4 separate regions of the Homo sapiens genome follow, and regions 1, 2 and 3 are each linked to region 4. Evidence: fine-mapped expression QTL. A gene starts in region 4. Each other region holds a variant in brackets. All regions are shown on one strand. Distances are from middle to middle.

Evidence for each region. PIP is the estimated chance that this variant, and not a neighbour inherited with it, causes the effect.
Region 1: its variant is fine-mapped to the expression of AVEN in whole blood (TOPMed, PIP above 0.99).
Region 2: its variant is fine-mapped to the expression of AVEN in spinal cord (GTEx, PIP 0.97).
Region 3: its variant is fine-mapped to the expression of AVEN in subcutaneous fat (GTEx, PIP 0.99).

Annotation. Positions count from the first base shown.
Region 1 is chr15:33,850,600-33,858,707 of GRCh38, forward strand. RYR3 (ryanodine receptor 3) reads left to right here. Exons shown (of 104, transcript NM_001036.6): 95 at 2,446-2,488; 96 at 2,956-3,083; 97 at 3,790-3,850; 98 at 4,167-4,313; 99 at 7,181-7,315. It also overlaps a transcript of AVEN not described here. Among named protein-coding and RNA genes, the nearest start is that of CHRM5, 110 kb to the right of the region's middle. RefSeq lists enhancers at 2,383-3,582, 7,722-8,108. The variant G/A (reference allele first, on the strand shown) is at 3,574.
Region 2 is chr15:34,008,420-34,016,527 of GRCh38, forward strand. The region is part of intron 1 of AVEN (apoptosis and caspase activation inhibitor); the gene reads right to left. All of the region lies in intron 1 of CHRM5 (cholinergic receptor muscarinic 5), which reads left to right. Among named protein-coding and RNA genes, the nearest start is that of AVEN, 27 kb to the right of the region's middle. The variant C/T (reference allele first, on the strand shown) is at 4,730.
Region 3 is chr15:34,060,965-34,069,072 of GRCh38, forward strand. CHRM5 (cholinergic receptor muscarinic 5) reads left to right here. Exons shown (of 3, transcript NM_012125.4): 3 at 1,679-6,494. The coding sequence starts at 1,754. The coding sequence ends at 3,352. It also overlaps a transcript of AVEN not described here. Among named protein-coding and RNA genes, the nearest start is that of AVEN, 26 kb to the left of the region's middle. The variant G/C (reference allele first, on the strand shown) is at 4,661.
Region 4 is chr15:34,036,004-34,044,111 of GRCh38, forward strand. It overlaps AVEN (apoptosis and caspase activation inhibitor), which reads right to left and starts at 3,201. Exons shown (of 6, transcript NM_020371.3): 1 at 2,777-3,201. The coding sequence starts at 3,043. The region is part of intron 1 of CHRM5 (cholinergic receptor muscarinic 5); the gene reads left to right. RefSeq lists silencers at 2,174-2,233, 2,584-2,643, 2,734-2,943, 3,124-3,293.

The sequences.
Region 1 (8,108 bases), 190 kb before region 4:
TTCATGTTTTGTAACGTGCTTTTTTTCAGTTAACTGTATGTCATGGGAGCTTTCTTTTTAAACATTTTACTTTTATATTGTTAAGCACACATAAGAACATATAAAATGTATATGTACATTTTACAGTATAATTATAAACCAAAAAGGTTAAAAAAATAGAACATTACTGAGAGCTTAAAAATCCCCTGTATTATCCTCCCTGATTATATCTTCCCAACCCACAGCTATCTACATTTTTGATGTTCATTAGTGGTTAGTAATATTAATTCTTAAATAATTAGCAATCAGTGATATTAGTGATATTCATTCTCCTGCCTTATAGTTTTCCCACTTAGGTATTTGTCCCTAAATATATTTTGACTATTTTGACTATTTGGAACTTAATATAAGTGGAATTATACTATATACATTATACTGTCACTTGAATTTTTTTTAGCATTGTTTGGGAACTCACCTATGTTGATGTATATAGCTATAGTTTGTTCATTTTCAAAGCTGTAGCATTTTCCATTATGTATATTATCACATTGATCAATTTTCCTGACAGTAGATATTTCAACTTGTTTTCTAAAGTTTCTGGCTTTTATAAACAGTGCTACAGTGAACATTCTTATACCTGATACACAAGTTGAAGGATTTCTCTAGAGTATAGACCCAGGAGAGAAATTTGCTGAATAGTAGGATATGCAAAATGTTTGTCCCAATTTATGCTCCAAACAGTACTATATTCGAGTTTCTTCTTCTCTGCTTATTTGCTGGCACTTATTGCTGGCAGATAATTTTGCTGATCTAGTAGGTGTATAGTGGCACCTCATTGTATGTTTCCCTGATTACTAAATGGGTTAAGCATCTTGTACTTTTTCCCTGAACATTCATGTACAGATGTACTCTTTATTTATGCACTTTCCTTCTGAAGGTCTGTTCTCTATGCCACACTTTAAGGACTCGTAACAAGTAAAAAATCTGTTTTCTACCTTCAAGGAGTTTGCATACCTAGTCAGGGGACAAGAAATTCAGAATGCTCAGATGAAGGTAAGACCGCATCTATGAAGGGGTCATGCCCAGAGCCTGTGGTCCTTGGCCCTTCAGCATCACTCGTGGAATCTTCTGCTTAGGAGAAAATGCGACCAGGCTGAGTTGTATGTTACCATTTGTATAAATGATTTAAGAGAAAGGAGGTATCAGTGTGGCAGAGAGCGCATGGCTTGATTTTTATTTGTTTTATTTTCAATTTAAATGCAGTGCATAAAAAAATCAAGGAGCAATGTACAAGGAAGAAAGTCAAAATAATTGTTATTTTCATCCCCCAGAGATAAAATATTAGCAGTTTACTCTGTAACACCAGCATTTGTTTTTGCTTTCAAGTGGCATTTAAATGTTTAAGACAAAGAAACTGCTTTAACAAACCAAAAAAAAAAAACATTTTTTTTTAAATACTGCCACCCTGTTGGGGGAGAGGCGGCATGAGAGGTCAGTGAATAGTAGGAGGTCTCCATTTCCTTATCACCAACTTGGGTGGTCTCTGGAGAATAGGGAACTGTTGTGTTCTAGAACCAAAAAGAATGAATCAAATAAAGGAAAACAAAAGTAAGAATGCATGCACCAAAGGCCAGAGACTCCTAGGCTGCAATCCAGTCTTACAAGGAACCCCCCCACAGGAAGGATTCAGTAATTCTGGATAGGAACAACATATTTTCAATGGTTTTTGCAAGCATTCCTGAAGATGACAGTTCTTTCTTAACTTTAACAGTAAGAAATATTTGCAGTGGAGCTGGTACAAGCTACAGAGAGAAGAAAGATCATCTCTCTGGGGATGCTAGGGGATGGTACAGAACCATCTCCAAAAAAGAAAGGGATCCAACTCCTGGAGGAAAGCAGGCCCTGTGGCATTACGTGGGAATAGAAAATAGAGTGGAAAAACACTCAGCTTAAAAAATCCAATGTAAATAAACTAAAGGTGATTCCCAGACTGGAAACTGCATATAGTTAGGGACTTTATCTACACTTTCTACCACACCCCACATCCCGCATCGCCATTATCTACCCCAGTAGGTGACATAAAGTAGTGACTCATTGAATGGAATGCCTGTGTTTTCTGTAGCATTTTGTTTCTGGTTATACTGGGATTAGGGAAAGGACTTAGAAACATACAACTGTCTCTGTCTAATCTGTCATCACAATTCTTGGCTCCAAATCATAATTCTGAGGCAGAAACTGCCCAGTGGCCTTCTGAGTGTTTCAAAAGCCAATACAAAGTAATGAAGCCATACATGACTCAGTAGAGCCTGTGATGACTCTGAACTTCAATCAGATCTTAAAATTCTTTGGTGAGCAGGACACAAACCAGAAAGATCCCAGATCCAGGCACTCAAACTGAAACGTTTCTTGATGTGTTTTCCTTGATGTTAAGAATGAAGAACCAACCTTTTTCGTTTTGTTTTTCAGATCTTTTCCTAATAACTACTGGGACAAGTTTGTAAAGAGAAAGGTATGCCTTGTTAGTGGGGGTGAGTTCCGTGATCACCAAAAAATGTGGTGTATGTTTTTTAAGTTCTCCACATACAAACATGAGTAAATGTGATGCTACTTTTATGATAATATCTCAAGAAGAGTAAGTCACAGAAGGGGTTGGATATGAACATATGTAGGTTTTTGGCTTCATTCATATACTCATCTGCCTTAAACAAGTTAACACAGTCCTCATTGTTTTCTGCATAGTAGATGTTTTCTCCCCTGCAAATCAAGATATCAGTATCAGCTTAAAAAACAGTTATCATTTAATTGTCTTCATTGCTTTTTTCTCTGGGTTTTCTCTTTTTTCTGCATTTTGAACTATGTCTTCATCTACCCCTTGGAAGATTGCCCATAGGGCAGCAAAGCTCTGAAGACCCCAGAGCTAGAAAATATTTGGTGGTGGCGTGTGGCCTGAGCTCACCCTGTCATCCTTTGCTTCAGGTGATCAACAAGTATGGAGATCTCTACGGAGCAGAACGCATTGCTGAACTTCTGGGTTTGGACAAAAATGCTCTTGACTTTAGCCCAGTAGAAGAGACCAAAGCAGAAGCGGCTTCTCTGGTGTCATGGTACAAAAAGCTTAGGAGTTCAAATCCAAAGCAGCTAAAATAGATAGATCTTTGCTTTTCCATAGGAAAAAATCACAACCGTGTCTTTGTTCTCTCAGGCTGTGGTCTGGCTTAGGTGTTTCTTCTAGGTTCTAACACTGGGAGAGCACTGCCTTAAAAATTTGAAGACTAATACATTTTTATGCCCTATAGAGCTGAAAGATAAAGACTTAATTAAAATTTCAGGTTGGGCTGGGCGCAGTGGCTCATACCTGTAATCCCAGCACTTTGGGAGGCTGAGGTGGGCAGATCATGAGGTCAGGAGTTCGATACCAGCCTGGCCAACATAGTGAAACCCCGTCTCTACTAATAATATTTTTAAAAAGTAGCTAGGCGTGGTGGTGGGCACCTGTAGTCCCAGCTGCTTGGGAGGCTGAGGCAGGAGAACCGCTTGAACCTGGCAGGTGGAGGTTGCAGTAAGCCAAGATCACGCCACTACACTCCAGCCTGG[G/A]TGATAGAGTGAGACTCCGTTTCAAAAAAAAAAAAAAATTCAGGCTATGTGATTCAACTGTTCTCTTGTCTCATGGGGAGCACATACAACTTGATAAAGCTGAGAGCCATATTTAGGTTATTAAACCTGAGAGAAAAAACTTACTTTTTCCCCCTTATTGAGCACTTAACTACCTCTTGACATTTATAAGTTTTAAAATCACTTGTTCTTCTCTAGGCTAAGTTCCATAGACATGAAGTACCATATCTGGAAGCTTGGAGTTGTTTTTACTGACAACGTAAGTACTGCACCTGGAAAAACAAAATTCTATACCCCAGTTCAGGGATGCCACAGAGAAGCAAGCTATGCAGGATGCTCAGAAGGGTTCAGGGATTGCTTATCAAAGACCAAGAGCCTTATACGTGCTGGGGGAACACTTATACAATGGTATAAGGTAGATGGGGCTCACTTAGCAGATCTTGGGCCAGCTCACAGCACCTCAGCACCTAAACCCCCTCTATCCTCAGTGTGTCTCCCAAAATAAGAAAAAATGTTTTATAATGAGCACACTATGAGGCAAACATGCTTAAAAGTCTGCTTTCTTCCATTCCCAGTCCTTTCTCTACCTTGCCTGGTATACAACCATGTCAGTCCTGGGCCACTACAATAACTTCTTCTTTGCTGCTCACCTATTGGACATCGCAATGGGCTTCAAGACACTGAGGACCATTCTGTCATCTGTAACTCACAATGGCAAACAGGTATGGTTTCTACTGATGCAGAACAGAATGGACCTGTATATGCACAGGAAAAAAAGAACAGCAGGTAGTATACAGTATATGACAGGAAGGAATATGTCTTGGTATATAATGTACTTTTCTTGGCCAAACACTTCAACTAATGGTGATTGTTTTTGCAAAATTGTAGCCAATTAAAAATGTAACTGCAACCATCATCTAAAAAGCATAAGACCTTGATTCAGTGACCCCTGACATTTAGATCAACCAGGAGAGGGAGGGAGGTGATGGACATGTCAGAATGACCTTGGAGATCTTTTTTTTTTTGTGACGGTGTCTCGCTGTGTAGCCCAGGCTGGAGTGCAGCGGTGGGATCTTGGCTCACTGCAACCTCCGACTCCCAGGTCCCAGTTCAAGCAATTCTCCTGCCTCAGCCTCCAGAGTAGCTGGGATTACAGGCACATGCCACCATGCCCGGCTAATTTTTGTATTTTTAGTAGAGACGGGGTTTCACCATGTTGGCCAGGCTGGTCTCAAACGCCTGATCTCAGGTGATCCACCCGCCTCGGCCTCCCGAAGTGCTGGGATTACAGGTGTGAGCCATCGTGCCCGGCCGGAGATCTTTTTAAGGTCTACCCCTTCCTCCATGAATCTGATATATTCCCTGGGGGTTAGCAAGTAGACATACTGTACACAGAAAACTCCCCAGGTATTTCTGATATCTGCATCCAATTAAGAGCCAATATTTCTGATATCTGCATCCAATTAAGAGCCAATGATTTCAGATACACACACACATATGTATATGGTTGTTATACACATAGTACACATTTTATGTGTGTATATACATTATATAGTTAATACATATTATATAGTTAATATATAATCAAGAAATTGACTCTGACAATATATGGAAGACTGGATATTGATGAGACTGGATATAGCAACGGCTATAACCATATTAAAATCTTCTAATGGCTTCTCCTTGTATACAGATTCAAACTGTTTAGCATTTCATTCCTCATTAAGTACAAGTCTGTGTATGACAGACAGGCTTCCTCACATGTCCAAACCTTTGTACGGGAGAGGGAGAAAAGACGGAAGTTACAGTGTGCCAAGCTCATGCCGTGTCCCAGTTACTGTGACAGCCTCACAACTACCTGGTAAGGCACACGTTAAGCTCACTTTACAGATAAGAGAACTGAGGCTCAGAGCAGCTAAATGTCTCACCCAAGACCACACAGCTGCTAAGTGGCAGAGCGTAGATTCACCCCCTTTTCTTCCCTGATGCAAAGTCCAAGTTCTTTCTCTTTTTTTTCCTAAACCACCTGCTTTCTGTGAGGTCTGCTCTCCAAGGTTTGAGTCACTATTCTTCCCTCAAGTCTGCTGAATACATTTCCTCTGGTGCTGATCTTCACACTTACCCACTCCCTTTTGTGTGGCTCCTTGAAGGCAAAGCTCTGATCCTGTTGATCTTCCTATCTCCCAGCTCAATGCCTAGTCCTTGAGAGAGGTCAGATGTGCAGGTCCTGTGTACTCCTCACTTAAGCCAGTGAACTCTCACTCCTAAAGCCTGGAAGTAAGCGTGCCCTAGGACACTGCAAAGGGCCTGGGCAGAATTCTCTGTAATAAAAAGTGTGACTCAGCTCCACCATCATAATTCTTAGAGTAACTTCAAAGTTGTGACAATTATCCAGTGCATGATTATTTATGAAATAGTATAAGGTAGGGATATCCACCAGTCCAAAGAACCTTTGGGTTTTTTGTTTGTTTGTTTGTTTGTTTTTTTGAGACGGAGTCTCACTCTGCCACAAGGCTGAAGTGCAGTGGCGCGATCTCAGCTTACTGCAACCTCCGACTCCTGGGTTCAAGCGATTCTCCTGCCTCAGCCTCCCAAGTAGGTGGGATTACAGGCACACACCACCACGCCAAGCTAATTTTTGTATTTTTAGTAGAGACAGGGTTTCACCATGTTGGCCAGGCTGATCTCGACCTCCTGACCTCGTGATCCGCCCGCCTCGGCCTCCTAAAGTGCTGGGATTACAGGCGTGAGCCACCCCATGCCCGGCCTGGGGTTTTTTAAGCAGCAGCATTAGAGTAGAAGCTACATTGTGAAGCCTCAGGTAACAGCTAGCTCTGTATGAACAATAACAAAACACAATGTATCCCTCCTCACAGCACCTGCACTATTCAATACTTAAGTTCCTTTATATTTTACTTACGCCCAATCTAATGCCCTATACATTAGTCTGCTTGGGCTGCCAGAACGAAGTACTACAGACTGCTATTTTGTTAAACAACAGAAATGTCTTTTCGACAGTTCTGGAGGCGGTAAGTAAGTCCAGTATCATGGTGCTGGCAGCACCAGCACCTGGTCTCCTCAGGGGCCTCTCTGTGGCTGTAGACAGCACCCTCTCGCTGCCGCTTCCCCTGACCGTCCCTTCACGTGTGCCTGTGTCTAGCCTCTCTCTCTGTGTCTCCAACTCCTTTTCTTCTAAGGATGCCGGTGAGATTGGTTGCGGGCCCATCTTAACAACCTCAGTTTAACTTACTCACCTCTTTGAAGGCTGTATCTCCATCTCCAAATACAGTCACATTCTGAGGTACTGGAGGCCAGGACCTCAGCATATGAATTTGAAGGGACACAATTCAGCCCCCAACACCCCATCATTACTCTTTTCTGCCAGGAAGCCCGCTTCTCTTTACCTGTGGTGCCATCTTTCCTCCTCTGCTCATGGCCTGATAGCTTTCTTAGCCGCCCTCCACCCCTTCCCCATTTCCTCTCCTTGCCCGTCCTCACTCTTCCTCCTCGTTTTCTTAGAGTCTCCTGTGAACCTTTCAAGGTAGAGAAGACCCCACTCCTTTTCCTTTCTCTGTCCTCTCATTCCCAGTTGGTTCTGACTGTCGGTCTCCTGGCCGTGGTGGTTTATCTCTATACTGTGGTGGCTTTCAACTTCTTCCGCAAGTTCTACAACAAAAGCGAAGACGATGACGAGCCCGATATGAAGTGCGACGACATGATGACGGTGAGAGCCCACCCACTGCGGGGCCAGCCCACCCACTGCGGGGCCACCCCGCCCCACCACCTCACTGGGAAGAAGGGCTGTGTGGGGGTGCTCTTGAGAACTGTAGAGTTAGTTACAGAGCACAGCAGAGATTAAAGTAGAAGACAGATGTCTTCTCCAAACAGGAGAGTGTCCTGGGAAGACAGAAGTGATGGAGGTAGTTTTCATTACCACACATCTAAGCCCCGTGGAAAGGGAAGCACCCTGCACAGTGGCGTCATCATTCATCTATTTCCGGGGTAAAGATGAGACATTATTTTATTTTTTTGAGATGGAGTTTTGCTTTTGTCGCCCAGGCTGGAGTGCAATGGCGTCATCTCAGCTCATTGCAACCTCCGCCTCTCAGGTTCAAGTGATTCTTCTGCCTCAGCCTCCCTAGTAGCTGGGATTACAGGCATGCACCACCACACCTGGCTAATTTTGTATTTTTTTTAGTAGTGATGGGGTTTCTCTATGTTGGTCAGGCTGGTCTCAAACTCCCGACCTCAGGTGATCTGCCCACCTCTGCCTCCCAAAGTGCTGGGATTACAGGCGTGAGCCACTGCACCTGGCCAAGATGAGACATTATTATGAATGAAACCAGTGTCTAAATTTCATGGAAGTTGAGCTTTGATCATCGTCTCTCAGAACAGAGAGCAAAGTCCCATGGACCGGGATTAAGCACTTGATTTATTTCAGCAAGCCAGTCGGAGGTTCTTTGCGGACAGCCAGCAGCAGGATCAGGTTGGAGGTGGGGAGGGGGAGTCCCGTCAGG
Region 2 (8,108 bases), 28 kb before region 4:
TTAAAAAGAAAAAAAAAAAGAAGAAAAATAATGCCTGAAAACTTCCCAAAGTTGATGAAAAACCTTTTTTTTTTTTTTTTTTTTTTTGAGACAGAGTCTTGCTCTGTCACCCAGGCTGGAGTGCAGTGGCACAATCTCGGCTCGCTGCAACCTCCGCCTCCCGGGTTCAAGTCATTCTTCTGCCTCAGCTTCCCAAGTAGCTGGGACCACAGGCGTGTGCCACCATGGCAGGCTAATTTTTTGTATTTATAGTAGAGACAGGGTTTCACCGTGTTAGCCAGGATAGTCTCAATCTCCTGACCTCGTGATCTGCCCGCTTCAGCCTCCCAAAGTGATGGGATTACAGGCGTGAGCCACCGTGCCTAGCCGATGAAAAACCTTTATACATCCAAGAAGCTCAATGAACTTCTAGTGTATATGCAAAGAGATTCATAGATACATAATAAAAAAGCTAAAAGCCAAAAACAAGGATTCTGCAGACCCACTCCATTTTGTTAAGATAAAATTAAAACACACACTCACACGTGCGCGCGCGCACACACACACACACACACACAGACCATCGAGAAAACACTGAAAATCAAGAAAAAGGAAAAACCAACTCATCACAAGGCAACCCAAAGAAAATTAATGGCTAACTTCTCATCAGAATCAACGGAAGCCAGAAGGCAATAATATAACATATTCAAAGTGTTGCTAGGAAAAAAAATAAACTGTCAGCCAAGAATCCTACATACAAAAAAGCTATCTTTCAAAAGTGAGGGTGAAAAAAAGACATTCCCAGATAAACAAAACGTAAGAAAATTTGCTCTAACAGGCCCACCTTACAAGATACACTAACAAAGTTCTTCAAACTAAAAACAAGTGGTCCTAAACAGCAATTCAAATCCACATGAAAAAAACAAATCCACATGAAAAAACCAGTAATTATGTAACTATAAAATATCACATAAATGCATATTTCTTCTCTTGTCTTCCCTTTACTGATTTTAAAAGCAATTCTATAAAACAATATGTGTATAATTGTATTGCTGGGCCTATAACATAGATTTTTTTAAAAAATCAATATCCAACTACAGCTGTCTACAGGAGATTCACTTTAGATTCAAAGATACAAGTAGCAGTAAAATAAAGAAAAAGCATAAAAAAATTCTATGCAAACACTAAAGAGCTAGCATGACTACATAAATATCAGACAAAATAGACTTTAAAACAAAAATCGTTATAAAGACCAAGAAGGCTGTTACATAATAATAAAAAGGTCAATCAAAAAGATATAACAATAGGGCCAGGCACAGTGGTTCATGCCTGTAATCCCAATGCTTTGGGAGGCCAAGGTAGGGAGGGTCGCTTGAGGCCAGGAGTTTGAGATCAGCCTGAGCAACATAGAGAGCATTGCTACAAAAATAAAAATAAAAAATTAGCTGAGCATGGTGGCATGAACCTGTAGTCCTAGCACTTGAGCCCAAGAGTTTGAAGTTACAGTGAGCTATGATCATGACACTGTACTCCAGCCTGGGCAATGGAGTGAAACCCTGTCTCTTAAAAGAAAAAAAAGAAACATAATAATTATGAACATATAAACATATGCTCCTAGGAACACAGCTTCACAATATATGAAGCAAAAACTGACAGAATAGAAGGGAGAATAGAAAGTTTAACAATAATAGTTAGAAACTTCAAGCCCCTACCTTTAATATGGATTAGACTGACTAGACAAAAGGAACCATATGCTTAACAGAAACAATAAAAAGATTTACTTACTGAAGCTACCATCCTATTTAACTTACAATAAATAAACAATAATTTACATTAATTTATAATCTGCTTAATTTAACTGGCCCACCTATGAACAGTATATTTGGACAACCTTATTCATTAAATATCCTACCTTTTCTTTCCAAAATAAATAAATAAATAAAAGAAGTTGCCAAGAGAATACTTACAGATTATCTCTATCACCAAGAGCCTTCAGATGAGCCAGTAAAATTTCAGAAGTTATTAATACTAATAACATATAACAACCAGACAACAGATCCTATTTAAAGCCTTTTATGTTTAAGAACCTAGTTTTTGCAGGTCCCTGGTTCTACTTTCTTCTGGAGCAAAAAGGTATAGAAAAGGCTTTCCTGTTTTGAAGCTAGTAAGGAGTTCAAAAACATTCACACCATTTTTCACCCACCTCCTATGTTCCTCACAAAAGGTAAATTATATCATAGAGGTGAATAGGTAGAATAGAAAGAAATGAGAAAGAACACATTTAAGGAAACCCTCCAACAAAAAAGTCACCAAAAACTAATCACAGTGATTACTAATGTCAAATATTCTCAATTAAAATTTTACAATGTGTATAACTGAAAAATAATACTAATTCAGCCCATTTCAAAATGTTTAATGTTACTGAGCTTTAAAATATATAACTGATTAATAGTTAATTGCCAACTTTTATATTTGTAAACCTATTAAGGTCATTTTTATCTTATATAATCATTTGGACCATAAGCAACAACTTACACTACTTTTTTCACTATTAAAAAACATTATCTTTTTAACAATAGAAAAACTCATAAACCATCATAATTAAAGAATTCAATGACAGTTTTCGATATTTGAAAAGTGTGCTAGGGCCGGGCATGGTGGCTCATTCCTATAATACCTGCACTTTGGGAGGCCTAGGCAAGAGGATTACTTGAGCCCAAGAGCTCAAGGCTGCAGTAAGCTATGATCATGCCACTGCACTCCAGCCTGGGTGACAGAGCAAGACTCTGTCTCAAAAAAAACTTTGTTTACTAGGCCTATACGAAAAAGGAAAAAAAGGCAGGGGGAACTACGCTAGCAAAAACAATTCTTTCAAGAAGTGAAATTTCAATAAAACATTGAATAAAAAAGGATACGGATATACAAAAAAGGGCGTTTCCATTTGTCTTTGTGTATTAAATAAAATATATGTTGTATATTAAATAAGATATGCATGATCATATTTGAAAAAATTAATAAATGCAGTATATGGCATATATGTGAATTATCTCTTGATCCCAGAACAATGTACATAATAATAAATAATTGGGCTCCAAAATACTGTGGCCATTAAGAATGGGAATAAAATGATCCACATGATAGTCAAATTCAACTGTTTCTCTAGCAAAAGAAGTATATACAGCTGTCCTTCCTTGTGGTCAGTATATGGAAAAAGCAGAGGGGAAGGGAGGAGAGAGGCATCCCACAACCAAGAAAATGGGAACTCAACCCTCAGTGCAGCTGTTCAACCACTCATCTCACAGGCCTCTCATTCCATCTCTCTCTTTCCCTAAGTCCTTATATCTTTCTCATGTGTGTCATTTTGCTTCCAAGTCGGCTAAAACTGGAAGGCACAGGAAGGTAATTTGCATCTGTAGGCAGCCCACACCAGGGACAGACTATGGGATTTCTCAAAGTCAAGACCTTGCGAGTTCTATGCTTCAATGACTTAAGGATAATTTGGGAAATTAGACTGGAGTAACTTTTATTGGACTAATTAGTGATTTTAAACTACAGTTTGTGGAGGTCCTTTTAGGGAGTCCTTGTAGAAAGGAAGGGGGAAATGGCAATAGAATCAGTTTCATTTTATCTGCTTTAAAAAATGAGCTTCTTATAAGAATTTGGGACTTCTGAAGCTTTTTAACAAGGTTTGGAAATTACCAAATTAAGCCATTTTGCAAGTCCCAACTCCCAGGTAAAGTCTATGAGCTAGATTACCATCAACAACTTTTCTAGTAAAGAAGGCATTAAATGGTCCTATATAAAGACAATTTGCTTCTTGACGTGGTTATGATCTGAGAGAAAAGATACCGTTTTGCTTTGCCAATCTATTTAATCCACAGACACACACAATAAGTAGTGACACAACTAGAAGGCCTATAAGTAAAACATTTCCTTTGTTAAATCATATGATTAAAGGTCATCTGTATAAAAAATATCTTTATATAAATACCCTGAGCATTTCTGGGTGATCTTGGTGTGCAAAATATATTTACCTGAACCATTGCCACTGACCATTTACTGTTTTTCTGAAGGCGGAAAGGGATGCTTCAGGTACATCTGCCTCTCTGTTCCATTTTTGCTGGGATTTCACTGCATATGCTTAATGCTGCAAATGGCCAGATTTTCTTTTGTCTCTGTCTCAGTTAAATTTTCAACTCTCTTATCTACCAGCGTAAGTCTGGTTTCCTTAGTCACTCAGGTTTTAATGTCATCACATTCCACTTTCCAGAAAAATCAGACCATTAAATAGCTGTCTTCTGGCCCACTTGAAGATATTTTCCAAACTCTCAAGTCGCCAGAGGAAGAGAACTTTAACAAGTAAAGCATTACTGAACTAGAAGGAACCTAGATAGGTCAAGCCTCTGCCCTCAAGCAAGAACATGCAGAAATCACATTGCACCAGTCTGTCCTACGGCTAGGTTCTGGGGTTATGTTTACTCTTCACCTAAGTTAACCATTATTTTTTCCTTTATAAGCACAAATTTCCAATTTCTTAATCATTGTCATGGTCTGTTTTAAATTTCCTAAATTCCCCACCAGCTTTTTTAATGGTTATAATCAAAATGAATGTAGCATACTAAGGACCTGACCAGTGTCTCCTCCTATCACAGTGGTTTTTTTGTTTGTTTGTTTGTTTTTTGAGACAGAGTCTCACTCTGTCGCCCCGGCTGGAGTGCAATGGCGCAATCTTGGCTCACTGCAACCTCTG[C/T]CTCCTGGGTTCAAGCGATTCTCATGTCTCAGCCTCCTGAGTAGCTGGGATTACAGGCGCGCGCCACCACGCCCAGCTAATATTTGTATTTTTAGCAGAGGTGGGGTTTCACCATGTTGGCCAGGCTGGTCTCAAACTCCTGATCTCAAGTAATCCATCTGCCTTGGCCTCCCAAAGTGCTAGGATTACAAGTGTGAGCCACTGGGCCTGGCCAAATGTTTTAAATAAAATGAAAATAAAAACAGTCACCTTGATAGTTCCTTCCCAGGATAAACTTATTTCTTTAAGTACAACTCTAAGTGGCACTTATTGTTACATTTGTCTGTCCTGCAATATGTCCACAGAGAGCTACTTTTGCTCCTTGCACCACTAAATTGCCAATATTCATTTAACAGTGTTTCCTGAGTAGTTACTGACTTCCAGCACTGGATCAGGCATTGGGAATACAAAGACCAATAAGCCAAGGGCCCAGGCCTCAAGAACTCACAGTGCTGTGGGAAACACGGAGAAGTAAACATATATAGTGTGATATCAGCTACTATAAAACATTCACAAGATGTTACGGAAGCACAGAAAAAACATCACCAATGGGGGAGAAGGGGGAATGGGGGACATCTTCAGGACCAGGCTTGTGAGCCAGTGGGAAGCAGGAGGATGACATCACAGGCTGAGGGAAGAGTATGTACGAGGACCCATGAGCGAGAAACAGTTCTGCTCTAGATGTAGACTCACGGCCTGAGATGAGCCTACTGAAGGAACGGCTGCTATCTTCCGCCTGCTGACTCTTCCCAACCTCAAGAACAGAGGGAACTCACATTATCCCCTGCCTTGGTATTAGCAAAGAACGTGCTTCTAACCAAGAGATAACAGCTGTTCAAAACAAAACCCGGGGAGATCAACAATGGGAAATTTTAAAAAAGAAAAACACATTTAGCTGGGCACAGTGGCTCACGCCTGCAATCCCAGCACTCTGGGAGGCCAACATGGGCGGATCACCTGAGGTCAGGAATTTGAGACCAGCCTGGCCAACATGGCAAAACCCCATCTCTACTAAAAATATGAAAAATTAGCCAGGCGTGGTGGCACGCACCTGTAACCCCAGCTACTTGGGAGGCTGAGGCAGGAGGATTGCTTGAACCCAGGAGGCAGAGATTACAGTGAGCCAAGATTGTGCCATTGCACTCCAGCTTAAGCAACAAGAGCGAAACTCCATCTCATTAAAAAAAAAAAAAAAAACAAAAACAAAAACCACGTTTGAGGATTCTGGGAAGATGGCAGCAGCAGCAGTATGGTTTTCCCAGGTCCCCTGATAAAAAATACAAAGAGCAACTAGGGTAACAAAATCAAAAATCCATGGGAAACAGCCACAAAAGCCTAGGTGACAAAGTATCTCCACAAAGTCCCAAAGATGAACAGGTACAAATCACCAATAGTCACAAGACCTGTAAGGTAGGTACCAGTGTCTGTGAGAGGAAGCAGAGATGGGATCAATGCAGCATCTGACAGACCTGGGCATCCCAAAACAAACAACAGGCACTCAACTGGAAAGTTCAGCGGGCCCATCTGGGAACAGCGGCTAAATATGTTGGGTCTACTCCAACAGCTGGTGAGTTCAAGGAATTTGCAGCTAAGGCTGAAGGAGCTGAGAATGTGGCCCCTTGACCTCTCAAAACTAACTGGCCAAAAGCTCTTTTGCCAGACAAAACTCCACTCTGAAGAAAAACTCCTGGGGGCAGAATTCAAATTGAGCAGAAGAGGAATAATAAAAGATAAACAGAAAGGAAGGGTCAGATACAGGGGGTGAGGGGTGCCGGATTTGAGAAGCAGGGACCATCTTTTTAATCACTTCAAGACAACAGAAGACTTCTGGTACTCTAGAGTCCTGAAGCCTGAAAAGCTGTCCTTAACAGTGTGTCTCCCTTCTAAAAGCTGGGAAAACTGGCTTTCCATGAAGATGAGCAACAACAAAGGATCACAGTCAAATCCCATTCAAAGCTGTTATCATAAGGAAAAAGATAACAAAGGAGCACTTTTTAAAAAATTCCACAAAATAGGCCGGGCGCAGTGGCTCACGCCTGTAATCCCAGCACTTTCGGAGGCCAAGGCAGGCGGGTCACGAGGTCAGGAGATCGAGACCATCTTGGCTAACACAGTGAAACCCCACCTCTACTAAAAATACAAAAAATTAGCCAGGTGCGGTGGCGGGCACCTGTAGTCCAGCTACTCGGGAGGCTGAGGCAGGAGAATAGCGTGAACCCGGGAGGCGGAGCTTGCAGTGAGCCGAGATCGCACCACTGCACTCCAGCCTGGGTGACAGAGCGAGACTCCATCTCAAAAAATAAAAAAAAATAAAAAAATTCCACAAAATATCCAAAAATGTTTTATTATAATACAATCTCACTGTTTTAGGATAATTTGGGAAATTAAACTAACTAAAAATTCCACCCTCGGTCTTTAGGAGCTAAGAATAAAAAAGTAACAGTTGTCAGCTCTCAGTCTTGCTCAGAAACAGCAACACATGAGGGAAAAAAAAGTGGGTAGAGAGACTCTAACAGACAAAAAGGTAAACCAACCCACAAAGCTAATGTTCAATGACACGTCTCACACGGATCTTCACTCCATCCCTTTCCTTCTCCAAGTCCTTATATCTTTCTCATAGGTGTTATTTTATTTCAAAGATAAAATGATAAAAATGAGAGGCATGAAAGAGTAATTACCATTCGTTAGCAGAATCAACAATTGGAGACAGTACATTCCTGGCTCCTTAGATGCACTCTTAACTTTCCTTCAAATAATACACCCTCAGATCTGAACAGTAACCATTATGTGACATAAAACTGGAAAGCGGCTGGGCGCGGTGGCTCATGCCTGTAATCCCAGCACTTTGGGAGGCCAAGGTGGGCGGATCGCCTGAGGTCAGGAGTTCGAGACCAGCCTGACCAACATGGAGAAACCCCGTCTCTACTAAAAATACAAAATTAGCTGGGCATGGTGGTGCACGCCTGTAATTCCAGCTACTCGGTTACAGTGAGCCAAGATCGTGCCATTGCACTCCAGCCTGGGCAACAAGAGCAAAACTCCATCTCAAAAAACAAAAACAAAAACAAAACCGGAAAGCAACTTATCTCTCCTAGGTTCTGCATTAGAATGAAGTGCACAGTACTATCAGATCAACAAAACAACAGACTTTTAAAAATCTTATTATGTAGTAAACTTACAATACTAATAGACACTGAGTTGGGCTCGCATGGGTACTGACCTCTCCATCTCACCTGGTCAATTATCTGCTTCCTGGTACTTGATTCTCTGCATGTGGCCACATGACTCTTTTTTCTTACAAATTTCCCCCTTTCCCTTCATACCACACTTCAGTCAAAAG
Region 3 (8,108 bases), 25 kb after region 4:
GAGATAGCGCCACTGTACTCCAGCTTGGGCAACAGAGCGAGACTCCGTCTCAAAAAAAAAAAAAAAGATTTTTTTTTTCCCTTTACCGCCCATTATCATGTCAAGGTGGTGTTTGTTATATATCATCAAATTTATGTTGTATGCATATATATCTCTAGAAGGAAAAATAAATGGTAGCAGTGGTTACCTCTGAAAATGGGGAGCTTGCAAGCTTGGAGGTCAGAGGTGGGAGGGAGACCTAATTTCTACAATTTACCCTTTAGTACACACTGAAATCTTTATCATGTACATAGATTTTTTAATCTACAAAGGGAAAATTTCATTTTAGTTTTGAAAGTTAAAATTTGTCAACAGAGGGTTAATTAAATATAGTACATCCATTAAGTGGAATAATGTACAGTCATTACAATGAAAGTGGTAGCTCTAGATGTACTGATAAAAAGCTGTCTGTGATAATTCATTTGTTAAGTAAAAAACAAAATTCAAATTGTAAATGGTAAAAGGCACCCATTTAAAATAATTATTAGTATATGCATAGGGGAAATTGTATTTAAATATTTATTTATTAGTATATGCATATGGGAAAATGCCAAAATATACACTAAACTGTTAGCATTGATTACCTCTGCAAGGTGGAATTAGAGGAGACTTTTGCTTTCTAAGATTTACATTTTGACATTGTTTGAGCTTTTATAAGGAATGTATTACTCTATAACCAGAAAAAAGATAACCTAAAACAATTCTATGATATTGCAAATAGTTCAGGAACAGAGAGAAGGTCCTTATCTTCAGCAGCTGGGGCAAATGTAAAACCCCCTAGATGAAAACCAGATATGCACTTGGAGTTTGTGCATTAGGGCAAGGAGAGGTGGTATAATATGGTCTTGGCTCACAACGGCACCTCAGTAATGTTTAATAATCAAGACTGGGACTATAGAATAGATACCACTTTTTCCCCAGTGCATGACGATTTAGGTATTTATCACCAGGATCTTAAAAATATAGGGTTTCAGCCCTTATGATCATTGCAATCTAAAGTGATTTAACATCCCTGCTTTCCTCTCTTTACTGCTTCTCAACAATCCATTTTTTTTCCTTTCCCTTCACCCTCCTCGTCTTCCCAGCCCTTTTTAAAATTGCCACAAGAGGGCAGCAGCCTCATGCATAAGAAGGGCACTCAGCCATAGGTAACAACAAAAAGCAAAAGGATGCCATTAAAAATAGGTGATCAAACTTTAGAGATTTCAGCATCTTGCTCTGAATATGTGTGCAGCCACGTTTAATATTCCATTAGAAACTATAAACAATGGGCCGGGCGCGGTGGCTCACGCCTGTAATCCCAGCACTTTGGGAGGCCGAGGCGGGTGGATCACGAAGTCAGGAGATCGAGACCATCCCGCCTAACACAGTGAAACCCCGTCTCTACTAAAAATACAAAAAAATAGCTGGGCGTGGTGGTGGGAGCCTGTGATCCCAGCTACTCGGGAGGCTGAGGCAGGAGAATGGCCTGAACCCGGGAGGCGGAGCTTGTAGAGAGCTGAGATCGCACCACTGCACTCCAGCCTGGGTGACAAAGCGAGATTCTGTCTCAAAAAAAAAAAAAAAAAAAACTATAAACAATGGATGGACAAGAAAATCATGCTGGTGTGCGAAGCTAATGTGTTTCCCTCTCTTCCAGATGCTGGCCAAGAAGAGCTGAAATAGAAAACAGCCTAGAACCTAACACTATTTACTGTAAAATTTTTGCACCAGGATGGAAGGGGATTCTTACCACAATGCAACCACCGTCAATGGCACCCCAGTAAATCACCAGCCTTTGGAACGCCACAGGTTGTGGGAAGTCATCACCATTGCAGCTGTGACTGCTGTGGTAAGCCTGATCACCATTGTGGGCAATGTCTTGGTCATGATCTCCTTCAAAGTCAACAGCCAGCTCAAGACAGTTAACAACTATTACCTGCTCAGCTTAGCCTGTGCAGATCTCATCATTGGAATCTTCTCCATGAACCTCTACACCACCTACATCCTCATGGGACGCTGGGCTCTCGGGAGTCTGGCTTGTGACCTTTGGCTTGCACTGGACTACGTGGCCAGCAACGCTTCTGTCATGAACCTTCTGGTGATCAGTTTTGACCGTTACTTTTCCATCACAAGACCCTTGACATATCGGGCCAAGCGTACTCCGAAAAGGGCTGGCATCATGATTGGCTTGGCCTGGCTGATCTCCTTCATCCTCTGGGCCCCAGCAATCCTCTGCTGGCAGTACTTGGTTGGGAAGCGGACAGTTCCACTGGATGAGTGCCAGATCCAGTTTCTCTCTGAGCCCACCATCACTTTTGGCACTGCCATTGCTGCCTTCTACATCCCTGTTTCTGTCATGACCATCCTCTACTGTCGAATCTACCGGGAAACAGAGAAGCGAACCAAGGACCTGGCTGACCTCCAGGGTTCTGACTCTGTGACCAAAGCTGAGAAGAGAAAGCCAGCTCATAGGGCTCTGTTCAGATCCTGCTTGCGCTGTCCTCGACCCACCCTGGCCCAGCGGGAAAGGAACCAGGCCTCCTGGTCATCCTCCCGCAGGAGCACCTCCACCACTGGGAAGCCATCCCAAGCCACTGGCCCAAGCGCCAATTGGGCCAAAGCTGAGCAGCTCACCACCTGTAGCAGCTACCCTTCCTCAGAGGATGAGGACAAGCCCGCCACTGACCCTGTCCTCCAAGTGGTCTACAAGAGTCAGGGTAAGGAAAGCCCAGGGGAAGAATTCAGTGCTGAAGAGACTGAGGAAACTTTTGTGAAAGCTGAAACTGAAAAAAGTGACTATGACACCCCAAACTACCTTCTGTCTCCAGCAGCTGCTCATAGACCCAAGAGTCAGAAATGTGTGGCCTATAAGTTCCGATTGGTGGTAAAAGCTGACGGGAACCAGGAGACCAACAATGGCTGTCACAAGGTGAAAATCATGCCCTGCCCCTTCCCAGTGGCCAAGGAACCTTCAACGAAAGGCCTCAATCCCAACCCCAGCCATCAAATGACCAAACGAAAGAGAGTGGTCCTAGTCAAAGAGAGGAAAGCAGCCCAGACACTGAGTGCCATTCTCCTGGCCTTCATCATCACATGGACCCCGTATAACATCATGGTCCTGGTTTCTACCTTCTGTGACAAGTGTGTCCCAGTCACCCTGTGGCACTTGGGCTATTGGTTGTGCTATGTCAATAGCACTGTCAACCCCATCTGCTATGCCCTCTGCAACAGAACCTTCAGGAAGACCTTTAAGATGCTGCTTCTCTGCCGATGGAAAAAGAAAAAAGTGGAAGAGAAGTTGTACTGGCAGGGGAACAGCAAGCTACCCTGAAAAGTCAACAACTCCTCTCGAAAGAACAATGACCACAGTCAACATCCTCTGAGGATGAGCAAGCTGATTCTGGTTTGTATATTTTCAAAAAGAAGACATCTCATTTTGAGTCCTTGAAGATTTTTGTAAAGGCTCAAGTTTGGTTGCCAAATGGAAGGGGCCATAGCTGCAGCAATTGCTGACATATTAAATGACTCTTGCCTATGACCAAGGCCATTTGATGCCAGGGGAGTTTGCCAATGAAGTAAAGGGATAGGCTCATGGCCCTTCACAAGAGGAAGCACACTGGGTAACAATGAACAGTGACTCAGGGAACTTATGCCCCTTCTGTAGGAAACAGCAGAGACCAGGTGGAAACCTTTTCCTGTGGAAACCTGTCATAGAATTTTGTGCAATATGTATGTGTCTATGAAGCTGTCTTGTGCCAGTGAGAACCAGCAGGAGAATGTACAACAGTGTCACTTGTTAACGAGACTGATATTCAACAGGCTTCTAAGAATATGTATCTTCATAAACTGATCACTATCTATTATGCAGCTATTATGTGGTCTATACTATACTGTGGTTTGTTTTCCTGTCCCCACATCTGAGTGAAGGTCTTGCTCTTCCCTTTCATATCCAATGTCAATTCCTTGTACTCACTGAACCCATGCTGATCTCCAGGGAACCATCCTTCCTCTCAGAATCCAGAGTCTGGAAGGACTGAAACCTGGTCATACCCAGTCCTTTCAAGGGGCCTCTTTTCTACTAATAAAGATGGATCAAGTCTCCACAGTCAGTTATTTTAGTTTTTGCCAGTGGAAATTTTTTCTTTTATCTAAACAGATATTGTGCATTCTATTTTGTGCCCATTTGAACCCATTTATTTATGCTCTGTTCTTAGGAAGACTAATTGTGTAAGAGCCCTTCACTGGCTGAAGATTTTCTCCAGGCTGTTGAATTAAGGTTCTTATATTGTTTTCAGAGATCTTGCTTTCTAATCTCTTCACAGGGCAAACCTGAGCAAAATGTGGAAAACAGATTTGCTTTTGAATTTCTTCCAGAGCCCTTTTGCAGCCTCCAATTTCCCTTGTTCAGATCCCCAGTTCACACCAAGACGCAAGCAGGTCAGCTGTGCTGCCTCCAAGCAGGGGGTTGTGGGGTGAGGTGGGGGTAGAAAGTCTTTTTTTATAGGTCCTTCAAATCAGGGCCTAAAAATGACTTCTTTATTCCTCTCCAAATTCGGTCACAAATGAGAAGGCCAGAAAAGCACACTTGAGGGTGCGATGAAGCTGAAAATGATCTGAAAGCTTCATTTTTAAAAACAAA[G/C]TGTAGGTCATAGTAATACATAAAAATAAAACAGTTGACATGCATGACAGCATGAGGATTATTAAAAACCACACTTAATTGAAATCTCTAAGTGCGTATAAACAAACGGAATCAAAGGACCTTTGTGGACAAAAGTCCACAAAGAAGCAGTAGTGTGGTACACAGCAAGGATTTTAAAGATGAAGCACTCCTGTCAGACATTATTTAACTCGTTGGTTACATCTGCAGCTGGACTTAAAAATCACCAGACTTCATGCGTCTTAGTGTAGGCCGGGTCCTTTTCAGTCTCATTTGCTAAGAGGATGGAAAATTAGCTGGTTTAGTTGTCCTGGGAATTAGATATGTACCTGAGTATGGGAGAGCTTCAGCCTACCACTGAAGAGCATCATCAGCCTCTCACAGGATGTCCCACGGAGGCTTCAGGGTAGTAGAATCTCAGGCAGGACGGGACTGGTCCCTTATAAAGACTTCACGTTGACATGAAACATCTTGTAAGCAGTGCATCTGCTGAGCCTTTGTAAAGGGCAGGTTGACACCTGCAAAGAATTCGGTGGGAACAGTAATTGGCTCAGTTCTCCAGCACAGAGGCTTTCGGGCCTCCGTGATGCCAACTGGGTGTGACTTCATGAGCAAACCTGCTCTACCAGCGCCAGATAAACAGTTGAGTCTTCGTTTAAGGCTTTGATTCCTGATAAAGATGAAAACCCCTTCATGAGAATAGGCTTTTAAGCCCATGTTGGGCATTCACCATTCGCAGTTGAGAGTGAAACAAGCTAATTTAAACAAAAGAACACAAATCGGGAAAGGATGCCATGGAGGGCACTCCTCGCACACTCCGCACTTGCTTAGGACTTGGCCTTTTTTGTTCATCTTTTGTGAAATTGATTAAGAAGTGTATTGCTGGGTGTGGTGGCTGACACCTGTAATCCCAGCACTTTGGGAGGCTGAGGCAAGAGGACTGCTTGACCCTAGGGGCTCAAGACCAGCCTGGCAACATAGGGAGACCCTGTCTCTACAAAAAAAATTTTAAATACCTGGGCATTAGCAGGGCATCGTAGTGTGTGCCTGTAGACCCAGCTACTTCAGAGGTTGAAGCAGGAGGATCGCATGAGCCCAGGAGTTAGAGGTTGCAGTGAGCTATGATCACACTACTGCATTCCAGTCTAAGTGACAGAGCAAGACCCTGCCTCAAAAAAAAAAAGAGAGAGAGAGAGGTCAATGCTTCTTTTTTTATCATTGGTTTTGGAAAGCAGCCAGTTTTGCAGACTACCTATGCCTCTTGACATAGACAAAAAATATCCCAAACTACTAGGGACAACTAGACTTCTATAGAATAGCGGCTTTAGTGGGGTCCTCAGAATGAATAGACCTAATTGTAAACTACAGGGACCTGATGGGTGGGTGGGAGGCGCATGGCCTGACTTGAGATCTTAGGCCTTCTATGCCCCCAGTCTTCCAGGCTTTGTCTATAGTAAACCATGTATGACTTTGGCTAGTTACCTACTGGATGCTGTTACTTTGCTATCATTGTAATTTGTTTCCCCTTGGCTGTGAATTTGATGACTTGTCAGGGAATCTGTTTTCCATTCAATTTTTGGTTGAACAAAGCATTTTGTCAATATTCTCAGCTTTTGCTTCGCTCCTTTGGTGAATGTCCTTTGAAGACAATACTGATGCCAGCTCTTTGTAATTGTGAAATCTGTACCCAAACCTCTGGATTAGAATCTCCAGTTGTCTACTGTAAATACTGGAATTACAGCAAAGGATATGGGGACTGGGCTGCTTTTCTGTATTGTATAAGCACTATTCTAGATATTAAAGAAATTTAACCGCACAGTGGTCCAATGCAGAGCATTTAAATAAGAAAATTGTTTCAGAGTAGCCTATTAGATCCATCTATATTGGGTTTCCCACACACCTTTGCATGGCCTGGCCTTTCAAGAAAGTTGGGATTGATACACAGTATGGATACACGTCCTTCTTGCTACCTTTTGTGATTCCTCCTTCCCTCTAAGTTACCAATGACCAAACTAAGATTAAATAATGATGACAAGAGATCTGTGAGTAAAACGCTTTCCCTTCCCTATGGGACAAGGGAGGTGGGGCAGACCTGAAACCACAGTCCTTTACCGAGTGGAGACTGCACAAAAAGGGGCAGCAGCATTTCCTTGTCAACTATTTAAAGAGTCGGTGCCCCACTCCATTCCCATTGTAAGTGATACTAATTTCCATCTTCCCCACATCATTTTACTGGTAAAGTTCAAGATTATGTAAACTCTTGCCCAATAAAGACCCCAGATCGAGAGTGAGCGGAAGAAGGGAAAAAAGTTTAATTGTCAAAGAAGAAGCTGGAAGCAATTAAAAACAAAACAAAACTTTTTTGAAATCATTTAAAATTTACAGAAAAGTTGCAAGAGTAATAAGAAGAACTCCTAATGTCCTTCACCCACATTCCGCACTTAACGTTTTGCCACATCTGTGCCTGCTCTCTCTGTATGTGTGTGTGTGTGTGTGTGCACATTTTTTTCTCAACCATTTGAGAGTAAGTTGCAGACCTCTTGCCAATTTACCACTAAATACTTCTTGAGTGTGTATTCCTTTTTTCATTCATTTTTTTTTTTTTTCAAGACAGGGTCTCACTCTGTCATCCAGGCTGGAGTGGCAGCTTCGACCTCCCAGACTCAAGTGATCCCACCTCAGCCTCCCAAGTAGCTGGGATTACAGACGCACGCCACCACGCCAGGTTAATTTTTTCTACTTTTTGTAGAGACAGGGTTTCACCATGGTGCTCAAGCTAGTCTTGAACTCCTGGGCTCAGGCAATCCACCCGATTTGGCCTGGCAAAGTGCTGAGATTGCAGGCAGGAACCACCGCGTCTGACCTTAGAGTGTGTATTTCTTAAGAAGGAGGAGATTATTTTACATAACCTCAATACAAATATAAAAATCAGGAAATTTGACATTGTTACAATGTTATTATGTAATCTACAGTCCACACTCAAATTTTACTAGTTTTTCTATTTGGGAAACTAATATATGTTCATTATAAAAATTTATTTTCCAGTTCAATATCTAATCCAGGATCACACATTGCATTTAGTTGTCATGTCATGGTTAGACTTATTTAATCTGTCTACAGCTTTTCTGTCTTTCATGATATAGTCATCTTTTAAGAGCACCTACAATCCAATTTTTTTTTTTTTTTTGAGACGGAGTCTCGCTCCTTTGCCCAGGCTGGAGTGCAGTGGCGCAATCTCGGCTCACTGCAAGGTCCGCCTCCCGGGTTCACGCCATTCTCCTGCCTCAGCCTCCCCAGTAGCTGGGACTACAGGCGCCTGCCACCACGCCCGGCTAATTTTTTGTATTTTTAGTAGAGACGGGGTTTCACCGTGTTAGCCAGGATGGTCTCGATCTCCTGACCTCATGATCCACCCGCCTCGGCCTCCCAA
Region 4 (8,108 bases):
CAGTCTGGTCTCGAACTCCCAGACTCAAGTGACCCACCCACCTCAGCCTCCCAAAGTGCTGGGATTACAAGCGCGAGCCACCACACCCAGCCAGTTTTGTGTTTTTTTTTTAAAGTTAATGATTGTATCTAGTACAATAATGCTTCTAGTGAGTATTCCGTGAAGATAATTATGCTCACCCATAATCAGTAAGCTTAGAGCTCAGACCATTTACAGAAGGAATGATTTAAGAGCAAGAGACTAAGAGATGTACTCAACTTAGTACTCAACTAAGTTACCCTGGAGTATTACATAGCTATGTAGAAGTTGGTTAGATTGATTTTGTTTTCCATTTGTATGCAGTGGTCCAAAATAGAAAGCAAAGGTGTACACAAAATTGGTTTCTGAAGGTGGACAACTGGTCTTTACATGGCTAGGAGTCTATTATGATTTTTTTTTCCTTTGATCATTTCGGTTACTCTCTCCTTGGGGCACAAATGCACCATGGGATATGAGAACAAGAAGGCTTCAGGAAAGTCAATCAATCTTGTCTCATGTAATGGTTAAGCACCAAAAATGGTGTCCTAGCAAGACTAAATACAAACAGTACTTCAGAATCTGAGAAATGGAAGGAACTTAGAGATGACCAATCCAAACCAAAATTAAGGAACAATCTGCCCAACATCCCTCCCTCCAGCTTTGGCTGAAAACATGATGATGAAGGGATAAGACCAACTCGACAAAAGAAAAAGCCTAAAATTTTAACAGAATGTGTTACAATACTATCTTAAATTTTTTAAAGTCTTGTATTATTCTTTCTTTTAATGATATACCATCATGACCAGGCGCAGTGGGTCACACCTGTAATCCATATCCCAGCACCTTGGGAGGCCGAGGCGGGTGGATCACCTGAGGTCAGGAGTTCGAGACCAGCCTGACCAACATGGTGAAACCCCATCTCTATTAAAAATACAAAATTAGCCGGGCAAGGTGGCTCATGCCTGTAATCCCAGCTACTTGGGAGGCTGAGGCAGGAGAATCACTTGAACCCGGGAGGCGGAGGTTGCAGCAAGCCAAGATCATGCCATTGCACTCCAGCCTGGGCAACAAGAGTAAAACTCCGTCTCAAAAAAAAAAAAAAAATATATACCATCATTTCACCCAATTTAATTCAACAGAGATTAACAAAACAGAAGCACCTTCACTCACTCAATTCAACTTAAAGACACTTATTAGTAAAGTCCTGTGCGCCAGACACCATAGTTAACACCAAATGTACCATTACTACAATTACTCTTAAAGCACGATCCCTGCAGCTAAGGAATATCTACTTTGTTCTCAATAAAGTGGTAACTGGTTCACGAAAAAGTAAGAGATAAAATACTGTTGACTCAAGGGCAGCTTGATATAAATCCCAGCTCTGCCACTAGCTGTGAAAGCTTAGGCAAGTCAGTTAACCTGTAAAAATAAAGATTACTCTCTATATATGGATATATAAATAATATATAACATTGTAGTTAATATATAATTACATACTATTATATTACATAATTCTACATTACATATATATTATATATATATAATAGAGTTATAAGAACAAAATGTGATATATAGTGGGCACTAGGTTGGTCTTAGTTTCTGTCATTTACCTTAGTTTCTGTCAGTTTACACGAGGTAAACTGACCCTAAAAATGTTTTTATATCTCATTCAAGTTTTGCCTATTACCTATCTTAATCCTAACAAGATTTAAGTTTGTTACATTTAAATTTAAGTTTTATACTTTTTTTTCCAGCTCTGTATTGCTGTATACAACTACTCTCTTTAGGGATATCTTATCTGCTATGCCCTCAAGATATTGTAAATACTTCAGTAAGAGCAAATTTTGCCTCATGCAAAAAAGAATTTTTTAAATCAGTGTGCATAAGAATGCAGAATATAAAGATGGTCTTGTCCTACAGATGTTAAGGTAACAGAACAACTCATAAAAAGACAGTCCTCTAACTCCTTTAGCTGAGATATGGTTAGCTTTGCCCCCATATATATCATCCCCTGCTCCAATCTCCAAAAACTTCCTTCTATGAATGTGTCAATAAGACTGATGATATTGCTATTAAAACTCAGAACTTGACTGCTCATTTATAAATTGAAAATTCAAAACGACAAAGCCCAGTGCTCGCTGATTTCTACACATACAGGCATAATAAAAGAGAACTACGCTATTACAAAGAACTATGCATCTGGTCCCGCCCCCAAATACTAGAGTCCAGTCGTAGGGGTCATTCTTTCACTCAACAAACTTTTTATTATGCGCCTACTGTGTACTAGGCATTGCACAGACAGTTAACAAAACAGACCAAAAAATCCTTTCCCTCCTAATAACAGGAGCGTGCCCGTAAAGGCTGCCGAGGGACCACGTCGTGGCCGCGCCTCCGTCCCATAGTGGTACTCGTACAGACAGCCCAGCCGGCCCACGGGCCGCCGAGACTTGCAGCCCTGACACACGGCCTTGGCCTCTGGGTTCCTAACCCGGACCCTGGGGCAGGCTGGGAAGCCCTCCTACCCCCACTGTCTCGCGCCAGCCCGGCCAGGAGGCCACGAGGGCCAAGCGCATACCCAGGCGCGCCCCCGCCACCAGGCGCGCCCCCGCGCCACCATCCGCCCGTCCCGCGCAGGCGCCGGCGCCGCCGCCCGTCTGGCGCGCGCCTGGCACGCTCTCTTGCGGCTCTTGACTGGCGGCCTCGGCCCCACTTGCCCCAGTTACACGCGGTCCCAGCCCCACCAGCCGTCGCCTCTTACCGGCGCGCTGGCCCCTGCGCCCCAGCCTCCCGGCTCCCGGCGGCTGCCTCGCGGGGCGCCTCCTCCTCCTCGGCCTCCGCGAGCGCCGCGGAAGCCCCGGCCACGGCCACGGCCCCGGCGTCCGCCTCCGTCCCCGCCGCCGCCTCCGCCGCCGCCTCTGGCTACCGCCGCTGCGGCTCCGGGCCGCTCGCTGTGGCGATCTCCGCCAGGCCGGCCGCGGCCTGGCCGCCGCCCACGGCCTCCCCGAGCTCCTCGCTCCGCCTGCATCTGGCCGCCGCTGGCGGTGCTGAGCGCGCGGGAGCCGAGCTGCGGCGGAGACGCCCTGGCCCCACCGGAAGCGGGCCGCACGGAGGAGCCGCGAGCGAAAGGCGCCCGGTAGCAGCGAGGCGCGGGGTGCGGGGCTAGGGATCGAGGCCGGCCGCAGCGGAGCGGGGCGGGGCGGGGCGGCCGGCGTCCCGCAGGTGGGGCCGGAACCGGGACCGCGGGAAGGCCGGACCGCTGGGAGCTGGAAGTGGTGGGGGTCTGCAGCGGGGCGGGGGGATTCTCAAGGCATCAGAGATAGGTTGGGGGAGAGACCGTGCTAAGTGCAAGGACGAGTCATAAAATAAAATTTGTATGATGTGAACTCTCGGAAAAAAAAAGTTTAAACGTATGTATTTGCATAAGAAAAGGTCTAAACAAATACATACTAAAATGTTAGTGGTTAACTGCTGAGATTTGAAGTGAGTTAATTTTTTTTCCTCCGTTTAATCTAATTTTCAGCAACGAATGTGTATCATTTTAAAACTATACCGAAGTCAGGGTTCAGGAGGTGTGGATGTAAAGACAAGAGTTTGTGTCTGGTGAGAGGTGGACTGCAGCACGTGGGAGAGAGAACAGTGCGAAACTGGGAGATGGCTAGAAAGGGCGTCAAAGTCCTCAGCAGAATTTCTGTAGAAATGACTACTACAGCTGACATTTATTGAGCACATGAGTATTTCATTCTCATAACAGCTCTATGAGGTAGGGATGACTGTCATCCTTATTCTGCAGTGAGGTAACAGCCTTGGAAAGGTTAAAAAAAACTTGACTAAAGTGAATAACTAGGTAGTGGTGGAACTGGCATTCTAAGGCGGTCTCACTCCAGTCCCTTCTTTCAACCAAGGAGAAAACAGGAAGGGGAACAGTTGGTTACACAGATGCATGAAAGCAGTTTTTAACTTGGGACTGAAACCACCTGAAAATAATGAAAGCAAGGGCTAAAATGTCAGCCTAGCAGAATAAGTGTTTTCTTCCCCCTCAGTACTTTCTGGTTCTTTCCTATATCCATACATAGTTAATACTTTTCATTGCTTCTAATTGCCTACTCTGCATCAGGCACAGTGCTATGTCCTGAAATTAAAAACAAAAACAAAAAAAAAACCTTGCCCCTGCCCTCAAGTAGCTCACTGCCCACAAGGAAGATAATCTAGTCGTGTGAATAGATGATTACAGTACCGTGTTGCTGAGTGCAGTGAGAGATTCAAGATCAAGGTCCAAAGAAGAAAAGTTAAATTATATTTAAACGGGTTACCCAAGGCTTCATGAGAAATAGACCCCTGAGCTAAAGCCTAATGGTTGAGTAGGAGTTTGCCTGGTTGGTAAATGGGAGTAGGGGCGCCTTCCAGACAGGGGGAACTATTGAAGGATTGTCAACTCCAGAGAAACAGTCTTAAAAATAGTAACACTTGTAGAGCACTTATATGCACCAAACACTATTCTACATACTTCTCATATCACTTCATTTGGGACTAATAGCTGGCCTACGAGGTAAGCTAGTGTTGTCTCCATTTTACAGATCAGGAATCTAAAACAGATGTTAAGTAACTTCCAAGATTACACAGTTACAGGCCAGGTGTGTGGTTCGTGCCTGTAATCCCAGCATTTTGGGAGGCTGTGGCGGGTGGATTGCCTGAGACATGAGTTCAAGATCAGCCTGGGCAACATGGTGAAACCCCATTTCTACAAAAATTAGCTGGGCATGGTGGTATATGCCTATAGTCCCACTACTTGGGAGGCTAAGATAGAGAATCATTTGAGCCCAGGAGGTTGAGGCTGTAGTGAGCTGTGATTGTACATGGGCAACAGAAGGAGACTGTCTAAAAAAAAAAAAAAGATTTCAACATGAATTTTGAGGGAGATGAACATTTAGACCATAGCAGTGGGGAAGGGGCATGGAAGAATATGGTTAAATATCTACCAGCATATCACTGGTCTGGCCTCTCACCAAGTTGAAGATCCACACATTAATCTCAAACTAGACATTTGCACAAATCGGAGTTTCTCAATGTTGGCAAATTTAGGGCTGGGTAACATTTTGTGGCGGTAGCTTATCCTGTGCATTGTAGAATATTTAATAGCATCCCTGGCCTCTACCCACTAGATGCCAGAATGAACCCCTCTCCCCCTCATTAAGACAACCAAAAACATCTCCAGACATTGCCAAATGTTCCCTGAGAGGCAATCACCCTGGATGAGAACCACTAGCACAGATAGATTGGTGCAAAAGGTACGTTTTAGTATCTAAGGAGCTACCGATGTAATTTATCCAAAAATTTATCCAGCCTTAAATTTGCCAACATTGAGAAACCCTGATTTGGGCAAATGTCTGGTATGAGATTAATATGTACATCTCCAATGTAGTGAGAGACGAGACCAGTGGGAAATAGGGCTTTAAGGAACTATATAACTATCCCTTGAGAAGCCTCCAAAATTATGAGGTTGAAAAGATCAGTGGCTTGCAGATTAAGCCAGTGTTATTAGGGCACATTCACTATGCTTGATACTTTCAACTAGTCAGTGTAAGACTCAGTAACACTTTTGAAAGGTATGCCATTTTAGAGAGAGATTGGTTTGTGGATGATGCCAAGTTTTTTTAACACTTATTTTGCACCTGATACTATTCTAAGCACTTTCCACGTACTAACTCATTAAATCTTCAAAATATCCCTATGAAATAAACACTATTATTATTCCTATTTTACAGATAAGAAAACTGAGTTGCAAAAAAGTTAAATAATTTGCTCAAGCTAGTAAGTAACAGAACTGGGATTTATACCAGTACAGTCTAATTCCAGAATCCATGCCTGTAAGTCTATTCTGCAGATGCCCTCAGAAGTCCGGGGGTATGTTACTCTCCATCTGTTCATTCAAGGCGTATCTTGTTTTTCTCAATTCAACCAAGAGTGTTTAGGATAGGAAAATTCTGAGGTCCCCCTTCTAGCACTTCCTAATTAGCGGACACAACTAGCCAAAGTTCTTTCAACAAGGATACGGTATATGCTGTCCTCGTGTGATTCTGGTCCAAAAATGTGTTATTAAGGTTTAAAAATACCACACAAGTACCTCCTGCATTTTGAGCAACCAGAGACCTTTGGATTGCATAAATAACAAAGGGAAGGAATCTTTTCTGGTATTGCTTTTGCTTGATAGTCCTGATTTTAAACATATGCCATTGCATGAATAAAAAATTCAGTTTTCCCTTAGGTAGGACTCATGAGAATTCATGAGTATCAAAACCAAAGTGCTGAATTATATAGGTAGCTCCTTAGAAACGAAACTGTACTTTTTGCATATTTTTAATACATACATGACCTAAGTTTTTTTTTTTTTTTTTTTTTGAGACGGAGTTTCGCACTTGTTGCCCAGGCTGGAGTACAATGGCGCAATCTCAGCTCACCACAACCTCTGCCTCCCAGGTTCAAGCGATTCTCCTGCCTCAGCTTCCTGAGTAGCTAGGATTACAGGCATGCACCACCACGCCCGGCTAATTTTTTTGTATTTTTAGTAGAGACGGGGTTTCTCCATGTTGGTCAGGCTGGTCTCAAACTCCCGACCTCAGGTGATCCATCCGCCTCAGCCTCCCAAAGTGCTGGGATTACAGGCAACAGCCACCGTGCCCGGCAACCTAAGTTATTTTTTAAATAAAATGGTAGCCAATTCCTTAAGGTAGTTGTTCTCAAAATGTAGGCCAGAAAAATAGCATCACCTGGGAACTTGTTAGAAATGCAAATTCAGAATTAAAACTCTGGGGATGAGGCCCAGTAATCTGTGTCTTAATAAACCTGCCAGTTGATTCTGATGCATCCTCAACTACTGTGTCAAGGTAGCATCTGAGCCTTCAAACATCACAAGAAACCCAGTAATTCCTAGTCTAAGACTATGGATTGGCCAGGCGCGGTGGCTCACGCCTGTAATCCCAGCACTTTGGGAGGCCGAGGTGGGTGGATCACGAGGTCAGGAGATTGAGACCATCCTGGCTAACACAGTGAAACCCCGTCTCTACTGAAAATACAAAAAATTAGCCAGGCATGGTGACGGGCGCCTGTAGTCCCAGCTACTTGGGAGGCTGAGGCAGGAGAATGGCGTGAACCTGGGAGGCAGAGCTTGCAGTGAGCCGAGATCACACCACTGCACTCCAGCCTGGGCGACCGAGCAAGAATCCGTCTCAAAAAAAAAAAAAAGACTATGGATCTCATAGGCTTTCACTGTTTGACGAAAAGTAGATGTTATGATAGGACTTAGAAAAAAATGCACTGTCCTCTTGCAAATATAAAGTTTGTGGGGAAAGTACCTCTTCCTGATTCTTCTCTTCATAGGCAAGCAGATTTTCTATAGTTTAGCTAGTTTCTCGTGCTTAATATATAAACAATGCAAACTGGAAAACACATAAGTTTCTCAGAAAGATGTCTTTATTTACTATGTTGTTTTGAACAGCTCCATCTACTACTGAGGGTGCTCACCAGCTACAGGGGGAGAGACTCTGGCATGAGCTATTCTTTCAGCCTGGAATCCACAGCCTGTACTCTGGTGGAGAAAAGGGAAAGTGAAGAGCTTACCAGGTCATAAGTCATAAGGGTACTTTGACTTGAAGGGCTGGAGTCATGATTAGAGAACTCCTGAAAATGCATGGAGCAAACTCCCAAAATACAGAATACATGACAATATCTTCTCCTCTCTCCTTCCACCCTCACTCTCAGCTGCTGACTTTGCTTTCTATTTCATGAAGAAATGAAAGCAACCAGAAAAGAATTTCCAGTGTTGCCATTACCACAACTCCCAGCCTACTTGTATCTGTACCTATATTGTCTGCCTTCCTTCCTGTTAGTATAGAGGGGTCTCTGTCCCAGTCCAAGGCCAAGGCCTCTATTACTGCACTAGATCTTATCTGTGATCACCTACTTGGGGACGTCTTTCCAGCAAATGCTCCCACTCTCCCCTGCACATCAGTTGGTACCTTCTAATGAATCATTCACATTAGCATACAAGCATGCTGTATTTTCGCCCTTTAAAAAAAATGAAAAAAAAAAAAAAC